Homo sapiens: one gene and its partners. The protein of the gene in region 3 purifies or fractionates together with the protein of the main gene of each other region. This does not show direct contact. Each region holds a gene or a part of one and is shown on either strand. Other genes may lie near its edges. The genes, in order: PRSS53, NLN and LMLN.

What was found.
Region 1: the proteins of LMLN (region 3) and PRSS53 purify together in Homo sapiens (affinity purification with mass spectrometry; one large-scale study listed by BioGRID and IntAct). This does not show direct contact.
Region 2: the proteins of LMLN (region 3) and NLN purify together in Homo sapiens (affinity purification with mass spectrometry; one large-scale study listed by BioGRID and IntAct). This does not show direct contact.

What each region holds. Positions count from the first base shown.
Region 1 is NC_000016.10:31,086,841-31,090,590, forward strand, and holds the start of PRSS53 (serine protease 53 precursor), read right to left. Parts: upstream 2,104-3,750; 5' UTR 1,970-2,103; coding exon 1,912-1,969; intron 987-1,911; coding exon 966-986; intron 860-965; coding exon 697-859; intron 59-696; coding exon 1-58. UniProt on the Homo sapiens protein: In vitro can degrade the fibrinogen alpha chain of as well as pro-urokinase-type plasminogen activator.
Region 2 is NC_000005.10:65,809,135-65,812,784, reverse strand, and holds part of NLN (neurolysin, mitochondrial), read right to left. Parts: intron 3,271-3,650; coding exon 3,084-3,270; intron 2,749-3,083; coding exon 2,620-2,748; intron 531-2,619; coding exon 394-530; intron 1-393. UniProt on the Homo sapiens protein: Hydrolyzes oligopeptides such as neurotensin, bradykinin and dynorphin A. Acts as a regulator of cannabinoid signaling pathway by mediating degradation of hemopressin, an antagonist peptide of the cannabinoid receptor CNR1.
Region 3 is NC_000003.12:197,970,087-197,973,736, reverse strand, and holds part of LMLN (leishmanolysin-like peptidase isoform 1 precursor), read right to left. Parts: intron 1-3,650. UniProt on the Homo sapiens protein: Metalloprotease.

The DNA of each region.
Region 1 (3,750 bases), on a different chromosome or scaffold from region 3:
CTCACGCTGCAGAGAACCCAGGACCACTGACCAGGAATTCAGTTCTGTTGCTGCTGCCCTGGAAGGGGAAGGACAAGGTCCAGGCTGCTGAGTGCAAGGGTAGACAGTGACACCATGGGAGACCCCACAGGTAGGTGGAAGATAGCAGAGAGCACTCCACGGCTTTTTCTTTTTGAGGTAGGGTCTCGTCCTGTCGCCCAGGCTGCAGTGCAGTGGCATGACCATGACTCACTACAAGCCTTGACCTCCCAGGCTCAAGCGATCCTCCCACCTCAGCCTCGTGAGTAGCTGGGACTACAGGCGTGCACCACCATGCCTGGCTAATTTTACAGTTTTTGTAGAGACATGGTCTTGCTATGTTGCACAGGCTAGTCTTGAACTCTTGGGCTCAAGCGATCCTCCCTCCGTGGCCTCCCAAAGGGCTGGGATTACAAGCGTGAGCTACTGTGCCCGGCCTCAGTCTGTGACTTTAAGCGAGGTCATTCCCTTGCAACCTGAGTTTTCTGATTTGTAAATCTTCTACCATGAAAGGTGGTTGTTACAATTAACTTGACAATATGTACCCAGTACATGGCAGATTCTCAGTAAATGGTTCTTTATTATTACTCTAGAGGCAGGGACTAGCCTTGTGGGGCTTGAGACAAATTGTCCACTCCCCAGAGCCGGAGACCCTGCCTGACCCCAGCCATGACTTACTTTTCAAAGCAGTGGGCAGCAGTGAGGACCCAGGTGTCTGCCACCAGGGAGCCGCTGCAGATGTGGGCTCCTTGCCTCCTCACACTGGCCTGCCAGGGCCACTCGCCAGGGACTGTGTTGCCCTCCTGAGGCTTGGGGGGGCCGGGGCCACGCTGTCCACAGGCTGTGGAAAGGAGTTAGTCACACTGACAGCAGATACCTGTCCTGACCTCACCCCAGTCCCAACCCAGACCCAAGTAAGACCTAGGCCCCGTGTCCCCAGACCTTACCACGCTGAGCGGCTTGAAGACCTGGGAAGAGAGAGACACAGGTAAGATGCAGGGACTCCAGGCCTGCCTAGCTTTGGGGAGGAGAGGGGATGGGCTGGGGGGCGGGCCCAGGGTCCTTGCCTGTGACTCTGATTACCTTACCAGCCCCTCCCAGAATGAAAATATTTATATGAGGCCGAGACAGCTTTTATTGGAACCTATTCAGTGTGCACACTCAGTAATTAATTCTCCTTCAGCTGTGCTCAGCACTCTGGGGCTTGGGGTTCAGCTTGGGAGTAGGCCAGCCCTCCTCCAGGCTTCAGAACCCCCAACTCCTGCCCCCGCCACTGAGTCAGCCAGGCGGCCTGTGTGTGTAGAGAGCATTAGCTTAATTGTCCTCTTAGCAGCAGAGGCCTAAGAGGAAGGATTAGAGGCCTGCATCATTTCCAAGTGGGGAGGGCCCCAAGAAATGGAGACTTACCTCACCCTGGTCTAGAGACTCAGTCTTCCCCACCTTCCCAGAAACTGTCTGAGAGCCCGCCAGAGAGAGGGCCCCTGCCCACCGCCCCTCACAGGCACACAGGCACCCCATGAGACAGCTGAGCCAGGCTGCCCAGAGGATGGATGAAAAGAAAGGGAAACTGAGGCCAGAGGAGCCCAGAGTTTGCCTGACGTCATTGTGGAAGTCGAGGGGGAGGCAGGCACAGGACACACGCAGGCAGCACCTCACACACACACAAGACCACAGGCCCCGCCAACGCAAACTGCAGCTGGCCCGAGAAAATCTCATCCATGTTGACACAGGTGGCCACATATACCACCCCACAGAGTCCTACGGAGTTACATCCCCACTGGTGGACTGTCGCCCACAGGCGGTCCCCCCACCAAGAAGCAGGGACTGCTGGGGCAGAGATGGCCCCTGAGCCCCCACCAGGCCACACCCATACCCCAGCACATGGCGGCTTACCCTCCATGAGGACTGTGGCACCCGCGATGAGCAGCACTGGGCCCCAGCACCACTTCATGCTGCCCCGGGCCACTCTGCCACCTGTGCTCCACTCTGAGAGAGGCCACCTGGGTCTCCCTGGCTCCACCTCTGCTCCACCTCCAGTTGGCTAGGATTCAGCTGTCTGCTTGCCCTAGCCAGCAGTTCCTAGCTCTGGGGCTGTGGCTGTGTGACCCTAGGCTTGTCACCACCCCTCTCTGGGCCTTAGCCGTGGAGCCAAATTGTCTGGGTTTAAATCTGTTTCCTTACTACTTGAGTGGCCTGGGAGAGCTAACCTGCCTGTGCCTTGTCTGAGAAACAGTTGTTGAATGGAAAACGTCTCAATGACAGCCTGGCACAGGGCAAGCTCACTCCCAGCATGAAAGTGCCATCCTGGAACCATGGAGGGCACGTGGGCAGCTCCTCCCAGTCCCCACTTTTCATTTCCACTCCCCCACTTCTCTTCCAGCCAGGGCTAGGTGGGTTTCACATGCCTTCTCCCAGGTCTGCTCAGAGACAGTGTGTGCCAGGCTGAGTGGTGAGGAGCCAGCACCCACTGCTGCTTGCTCGCTGTGAGCCTTTGGCAAATCCCAGTATCTCCCTGGGCCTGCTGGCTTCCTGGGAAACAGGGTGACAGCGGTGCCCACCTTCCTCATAGGCGCAGAGGACTCGGTCAGGCGGGAAGAACACTTTGGCGCGTGCCTCCTCTTCCTCTTCCCACTCCTAACTCAGGCTGGCCCAGACCATTCAAGAACCCTGACCCCAAGACAGAGGCAGCTGTGGGTAAGGTTTAGCATATATTATAGATGCTGGCCGGGCATGGTGGCTCACGCCTGTAATCCCAGCACTTTGGGAGGCCAAAGCAGGCAGATCACCTGAGGTCGGGAGTGCGAGACCAGCCTGACCAACATAGAGAAACACTGTCTCTACTAAAAATACAAAATTAGCCAGGCCTGGTGGCGCATGCCTGTAATCCCAGCTACTCGGGAGGCTGAGGCAGGAGAATCACTTGAACCTGGGAGGTGGAGGTTGTGGTGAGCCGAAATTGTGCCATTGCACTCCAGCCTGGACAACAAGAGCGAAAGTCCGTCTCAAAAACAAACCAACAAAAAAAAAAGCATATAGATGCTGGAGCCAGATGGACCAGGTGGATTCAAATCCTGAGAGCCTCCTGCAGTAGCTGTGTGATCTCAGGCATACTAATTAGCCACTCTGTCCCTATCATCAAGATAGGGATAATAATAGTACCCACCTCATAAATCACTGTAAAGATTAAACGAGTTTAACACGTTAACACAAGTTTTTTTTTGTTTTTTGTTTTTTTTTGGAGACGGTCTTGCTCTGTTGCTCAGGCTGGAGTGCAGTGATCATGGCTCACTGCAGCCTCAACCTTCTGGGCTCAAGCAGTCTTCCCGCCAGCTTCCCGATTAGTTGGGACTATAGGTACATACACCACCATGCCTGGCTAATTTTTTTTTTTTTTTTTTTTTGTAGAGACAGGGGTCTCACTATTTTGCCCAGGCTGGTCTGGAACTCCTGGCCTCAAGTGATCCTCCTGCCTTGGCCTCCCAAAGTACAGGGATTACAGGTGTGAGCCACTGCACCCTGCCAACACAAGTTCTTAAACAGTGCTTGGCATGTAGGTAAGTGGTCAGGGCATAATAGGCAAAACAAAAACCTTCACAACCTGGCCCTGACCCTCCAAGGCTACCAATACTGGCTTGGAATGGTCGATAAGGCAACTGGAGGGGTTAAAGTTAAACTCAAGGAAGAACTTCCCAGCAAGCATTTACAGAACCAGAAGGGCAGCCTGCCCTTCCA
Region 2 (3,650 bases), on a different chromosome or scaffold from region 3:
GAATATCAAAACACAGGGAAACCATTTACATCAGGAAGGAGTTTACCTTTCTTTCCCAACCTCCTATAAAACTAAAATGTTGTATGGTACATGTCAAAACTAGCAGCTACAGATTCTCAAATCCATAAACAAAGCTTTGAATTTTTAATTATGTAATATATCAGAATGTTAATAAGCAAGAAAATATACTAGTTTTTTTTAAACTATAGAATTAATCACTTGTATACTGCAACTTAATGATGTATGATGATTTGAAAGATGCAGGGCCTCAGAGGTAAAAGCTGTTACCAAGCCTCTTACAGTAAAATCTAGATGTGACCAATATTTTACACTAGGAGTTAAAGGGGAGGGAGCAACTACAAAATTAATAAAAGGAGAAAAATAATACTATACCTCTGGATTCATTATCCCTTCTTTTTTAAAACAGCTGTAAAACATATCCATGGAAAATACTTCACTCCAAAGATATCCATAATATTGGCCATCGTATCCCCCTGCCAAATGTCCAAAGGTAGCTGGCATATTTGTGCCTTTAAAAAAAGATACATTTCAATCAATGTGATAGCAAACGTTAATGATCAGGTTAACAGCTAGCTAAGGTTTCCCTCTGAGGAGGCCAGCTGTGGGAGGAGAGAATGAATGACATGATCTCACCTCTAGTACTCCTTGGGCTGATGTGTCCTCTTGGCCAAGATGTTTATAAACATCTATCAATGGCTCAACCTCAGAGCTGGTTTCGGCCCCAAGCTCTGGAATGCCTAAGGATAGTTTCAGCGGCTTTGTCCACACCCACCAGATAGCTCAGTGTTTTAGAACTGAAATCAGTCCTTTCTTATCTCTTAAACATGTATGTGTTTTGAAAAATAATATTAACCCTACTCTTTGCCACACCTCTTTATATCTAAAATGTCTCAGAATTGCACTTATTTTAGGTTGATAATTACTGAAAAAGAACTTTTTTTTGAGACAGAGTTTCACTCTGTTGCCCAAGCTGGAGTACAGTGGTGAGATCTCGGCTCAATGCAACCTCAGCATCCCAGGTTCAAGGGATTCTCCTGCCTCAGCCTCCTGAGTAGCTCGGATTACAGGTGCATGCCACCACGCCGGCTAATTTTCATATTTTTTAGTAGATACAGGGTTTCACCACTTTGGTCAGGCTGGTCTCAAACTTCTGACCTCAAGTGATCTATCTGCCTGCCTCGGTCTCCCAAAGTGTTGGGATTACAGGCGTGAGTCACCGTGCCTTGCCTGAAAAAGAACTTTTCACCAATTCAATCTACCTGTAGGGCTACTTTATATAGGATTTTGTCAAAAATCCTGAGCTCAAGTGATCTTCCCGCCTCAGCCTCCCAAAATGCTGGATTACAGGCGTGAGCCACCATGCCAGGCCTAAAAATGTCCCTTCTTGATAGCATAACAGGATGGCTATAGTCAATAATAATTTAATTGTACATTTAAAAATGTAATTGCGACACAAAGGCTTGTGACACAAAGGTGCACTATGGCTTACTATGTGGGGAGCCTAGAATGACTCAACGGACCATTCTTATCTTTATTCTCTCTATAAATGTGGCTGACTCATTTTAATAACAATTTCCTTGGTGAAAAAAAATCCACCTTACCAACTACATATAAAAGCACAACTATATATTGGCTTAAAACATACACATACAAATATAAACACGCCCATGCATGAGTCCCATAAATCTCAGATTACAAACTGCTAGTCAAATGCTTTAACTGATCTCAGAATCAGAAACAAGGTGAAGTTCATGCTTCTCCCCCCAAATACCCTTTATTTTTTTTGAGACAGGGTCTCACTGTGTCACCCAGGCTGGAGTGCAGTGGTGCAATCATGGCTCGCTGCAGGCTTAACCTCCCCAGGCTCAGGTGATCCTCTCAACTCAGCCCCCTGGGTAGCTAGGACTGTAGGTATACACCACCACACCTGGCTAATTTTTGTATTTTGGTAGAGACGGGTTTTGCCATGTTGCCTAGGCTGGTCTCGAACTCCCGAGCTCAAGTGATCTTCCTGCCTCAGCCTCCCAAAGTGCTGGGATTACAGGTGTGAGCCACCATGCCAGGCCTGAAAATGCTCCTTCTTGATAGCATAACAGGATGACTATAGTCAATAATAATTTAATTGTACATTTAAAAATAACTAAAAGAGTGCAAGTGGACTGTATGTAACACAAAGGATAAATGCTTGAGGGGATGGAAAAAATAAACAAAATACTATATGTAAAGGAAAAAAAACTTAAAAAGTTCCCCTTCTGCCAATTTCTTCCTGAAAATCACAGGGAAGTCATGATGCATACAGGGAGGGAGGAGCTGAGAGTGTGCTGCCAACACGAATGGCTCTCCCAGCTCTGGGGCGGAGGCCAACTGCTCATGCCTGATTACACTAAAATGCTGCAGATCTGGAGCCACCTTTCCTTCAAGCGCATTTGGACGGGATAACTCATAAGGACATAGTATGCTTATCTGAAAGTCATGGCCTGATTACAGAAATCAGAAACAATTAGGTAATCTGTCTGACAAACTCCATCTCCCCTGCAGTGTTAGGAGAACGCCCTGTGCTTCACAGAGAAATGAACTCAATTCATAGTAGTTACATACCTGGAGTAGCTGCAACTCCTAATATTTCTGAGCAGTATTTGGCATATTCACTTGCAGCATCCAGCGATGTGTTGGTATGAAGAGACTGATCAACTTTGCTCAAAACAATCTGGCGCAGGGTCAGAAGACCTAATAACATAAGAATGTTTGGGCATGTTTTGAAGAAGACAGAACTGTGTGTTTTATTATCACAAGATTGTAGATTCCAAAAACAGATTCCAGTAGTACTCACAAAATGGGAGCAGGACATCTCATTCTACTTAAGATTTAAAAGGAGATGTGGTTTTTTGCCTCAGACAAAATTCCGGGGTTTCCTATTCCAATATATTTAATGTTCTTCACTCCTCATGCTAGCACGGTTGGGATACCACTTAAAATGAAAATAAGTTCTACAGAAGAAGGTGACAGCAATTCTACATTAAGAGATTCTAATTTATTTTCCTTTTTAAAATTAGAAGTCATACCTGTGTTGACCAGCCTAGAAGCAACAAGTTTTTCAAGCAGATCGTCTGCAATAGGGCTTCCATCTTTATAATGTTTTGACAATCTTCGGAGGGAATCGACGTCCCACACCCAATTTTCAAGCATTTGCGATGGCACCTCTACAAAGTCAGTTTCCACATTTGTTCCGCTAAATCGTGCAAAATCAGTCTAGAAAGCAAACACAGAGAATTTTTTTAAAGAACTCAATGAAAGTACATATGCAATGAATAATTATTAAGAGTCACGAAAACTTAAGGCAGAATCAGACTCAACTGTTCCTCTGAATGAGGGGTTAGAATAACCTCATAGTCAAGTGAAAATAAAACACAGCAGCTGAACAGTGTGAAAAACAACCCCCAAATACTCTATATTACAGTAGTAATTTCATTCCTTTGAATTGTAGACAAAGTTGGAACAATCATCAGAAAACCAGAACTGAAAAATACAATCAGTCTAAGCTAAAAACAAGCCTTAAGCTTTGAAAGCAGAAGTATTTTTAAAGAATTTTCCATTAAAAATGAAGAGATCCATTAAACAAGCAATTTCTC
Region 3 (3,650 bases):
ATTCTATATTTTGTAGAAAACTACGTTTGATCTATTAATATAACATAGTAACAGTCACAGATTTTCACAATACGTATTGCCTGCTCTGCTATGATGGCCTGACACCCTACTTCCAGTATTTTACTCATTCCATTCCAACCTATCTCCAGGTAACAGATTATTTTATGGCCCTTAAAAAACCATCAGAGGCCAGACACGGTGGCTCACGCCTGTAATCCCAGCACTTTGGGACTTTGGGAGGCCGAGGCAGGCAGATCACAAGGTCAGGAGACTGAGACCATCCTGGCTAACATGGTGAAACCCCATCTCTACTAAAAATACAAAAAAATTAGCCGGGCATGGTGGCAGGCGCCTGTAGTCCCAGCTACTTGGGAGGGTGAGGCAGGAGAATTGCTAGAACCCAGGAGGTGGAGCTTGCAGTGAGCCGAGATTTTGTCACTGCACTCCAGCCTGGGCAACAGAGCAAGACTCCGTCTCAAAAAAAAAAAAAAATCAGAAATGTCTGAGCACAGCAAATGGATATGGTACATTTTAGCAATCCATTACATGACTAACCTCCCCACAGATAACACATTACAAAGTCCGGACAAAATATACTGTCTGACAGTATTTTGGGGAGGGAGAAAGACAGAATCTGGAAGAATCTACTCTTGGAATACAGGAATTGTATCTCTGAGATTTGCAAGTCTAACTTTGGCTTGAGAGCACTACCTAATCTGTGTCTCTTGGAGTGGCAGGAAGTCAGAGCCTCACTGGCTTGAGGAGCTACAGCAAAATGTTCAGAACTTGTATCACCAGAAAATTAGAAGTTAGAGAGGAAATCTTGCAAGAGAAGAAGCCACAGAAGGTACCCCAAAATCTGCATATGAAACCCAGTCAAATATTTGACTGACCACTAAATTCCTTGGCTGACAACGAAATTACATATGTATGCGATAAAACCCAGCAAAGAATAAATGTTGCCAACAACAGGAGATAAGAGTTTGGAATTTTGAATACAGTTAAGTTAAACGCCAGCTACAAAAAAAAAAAAATTATTCAGAGAAATACAACAGAATCCAGACTTTACAATATATTATCTATGGTGTCCATTATTTAATAAAAAATCAGCAGCAATGAGAACAAAATGGGAAAATGAGATCCACAATGGGGGAAAAAGCAGGGAATAGAAACAGACCCTAAGAGGACCTGAATTTAAACAACTAGTTTAATGCAGCTGAAATGTGTTCAGGAACTTAAAAGAAAACATACACATAATGAGTAAGCAGATAGTGAACCTCAGAAGAGACACTATGAAAAGAACCAAAGAAAAAAGAGCCAAATGGAAATTCTAGAGCTTAAAAGTATAACAATTAAAATGAAAAATTCATTGGGGCCGGACACGGTGGCTCATGCCTGTAATCCCAGCACTTTGGGAGGCTGAGGTGGGTGGATCACTTGAGGTCAGGAGTTCCAGACCAGCCTGGCCAACATGGTGAGACCCTGTCTCCACTAAAAATACAAAAATTAGCCAGGCGTGGTGGTGCACACCTGTAATCCCAGCACTCCAGAGGCTGAGGCAGGAGAACTGCTTGAACTCGGGAGACGGTGGTTGCAGTGAGCCAAGACTGCACCATCACCCTACAGCCTGGGTGACAGAGCAAGACAGTCTCAAAAAAAAAAATTCACTAGAAAGAATTAAAAGAAGATTGGAGATGGCAGAAGCATCAGTGAACTTGAAGATAGATCTAGACATTATCCAATCCGAAGAAGAGAAATGAAAAAGACTAAAAAAAAAAAAAAAAAAAAAAAAGAACAGAGACTCAGAGAATGGGTACCAAGCAGTCTAGCAGATAGGTAATTAGAGTCCTATAAGGACAGGAGAAAATATGAGACAGAATATATATTTGAAAGAAATAACAGCTAAAAAATTTCAAATTTGGTGAAAGACATCAACTTACAGATCCAAGAAGTTCACTAAACCTCAAGCAGGATAAAAAACAAACAAGGCTGGGCGTGGTGGTTCATGCCTGTAATCCCAGCTCCTCAGGAAGCTGAGGCATGAGAATCACTTGAACCCGGGAGGCGGAGGTTTCAGTGAGCCAAGATCGTGCCACTGCACTCCAGCCTGGGCAACAGAGTGAGACTTTGTCCCCAAAAACAAACAAACAACAACCAGGTACATCATAGGCAAACTTGTGACATCTAAAAATAAAGATAAAATATTGAAAGCAATGAGAGAAAAACAACACATTTTATATGGTTTGGCTCTGCATCCCCAGCCAAATTGCATCTTAAATTGTAATCCCACATGTCAAGGGAAGGAGGTGACTGGATCATGGGGGTGTTTCCCCATGCTGTTCTCATGATAGTGAGTTCTCACAAGATCTGATGGTTTTATAAGCAAGCCTCTGGCATTTCCCCTGCTTGTACTTCTCTCTCCTGCCACCATGTAAAGAAGGTCCTTGCTTCTCCTTCATCTTCCACCATGATTGTAAGTTTCCTGAGGCCTCCCCAGCCATGTGGAACTGTAAACCACTTTCCTTTATAAATTACCCAGTCTCAGGTAGTATCTTTATAGCAGTGTGAGAACTAATACAACATTATACATAGGAAGGGAAGAGAAGTACGAATGGCATTGACTTTCTGTGAAGAACAATAAAGAACAGAAGACAATGAAATAAACAGGAAAGGGCTAAAATAAAGAAATTCAACACAGAAGTCTATATCCAATGAAAGTACCCTTCAAAAATGAAGAGGAAATAAAGACATTTCACATACATCTGAGAAAACTGATCACCAGCAGACCTACACTACAGGAAATGCTAAAAGAAGTTATTCGTGGGAATGGAAATAACACAAAAGGGTAACCTGTTTCTGTAGGAAGAAATAAAAGCTATTGGAAATGGTAAATACGTGAATAGATATGAAAGACTATTGTGCAGAAGAGTCAACACAGCAGGTCAGAGATTGCTGCTCTCTGTAGGAAGTCCTGCTTGCAAGGTTGACCTTTTGCTGGCATCTAGAAGTGTAATTTAAAACTTCACTAGGTTATAAGGATGGCTCATTGTGTCTAAACTATTTGCAGAAACAATATGGTTTATGTTGAACATTTGCTTGCTTCTGGAGTCTGAAATTTCAGTGGCTGAAATTTTGTCTACGTGACCAGCCTCCAATAAAAACCCTGGACTCTAAGAATCAGGTAATCTTCCCTGGTAGACCACACTTTGTGCACGCTGTCACAACTCACTGCTGAAGGAATTAAGCAGGTCCTAAGTGACTCTACTAGGAGAGGACTCTTGGAAGTTTTTGCCTAATTTCCTCTAGTCTTTGTCCCATGATCCTTTTCCCTTTGCTGATTTTACTTTGTATGCCTTCACTGTAATAAATCTCAGCTGTGAGTATGACGACAAGCTGAATCTAGCGAGGCCACCTAGCAATCACCAAACCTGGAGTGGTCTTGGGAATCCTCAACACAATTATACACACTTCTTTTCTTCTGTTAATTTCTTTGGAGACAAATAAATATTTAAAGCAAAAATTGTAAAATTTTTAATTGTGAAGTTTATTTTTTTTATTTATTTTATTTATTTATTTTGGGTTTTTTTGAGACAGTCTCTCTCTATTGCCCAGGCTGGAGTGCAGTGGTACAATCTTGGCTCACTGCAACC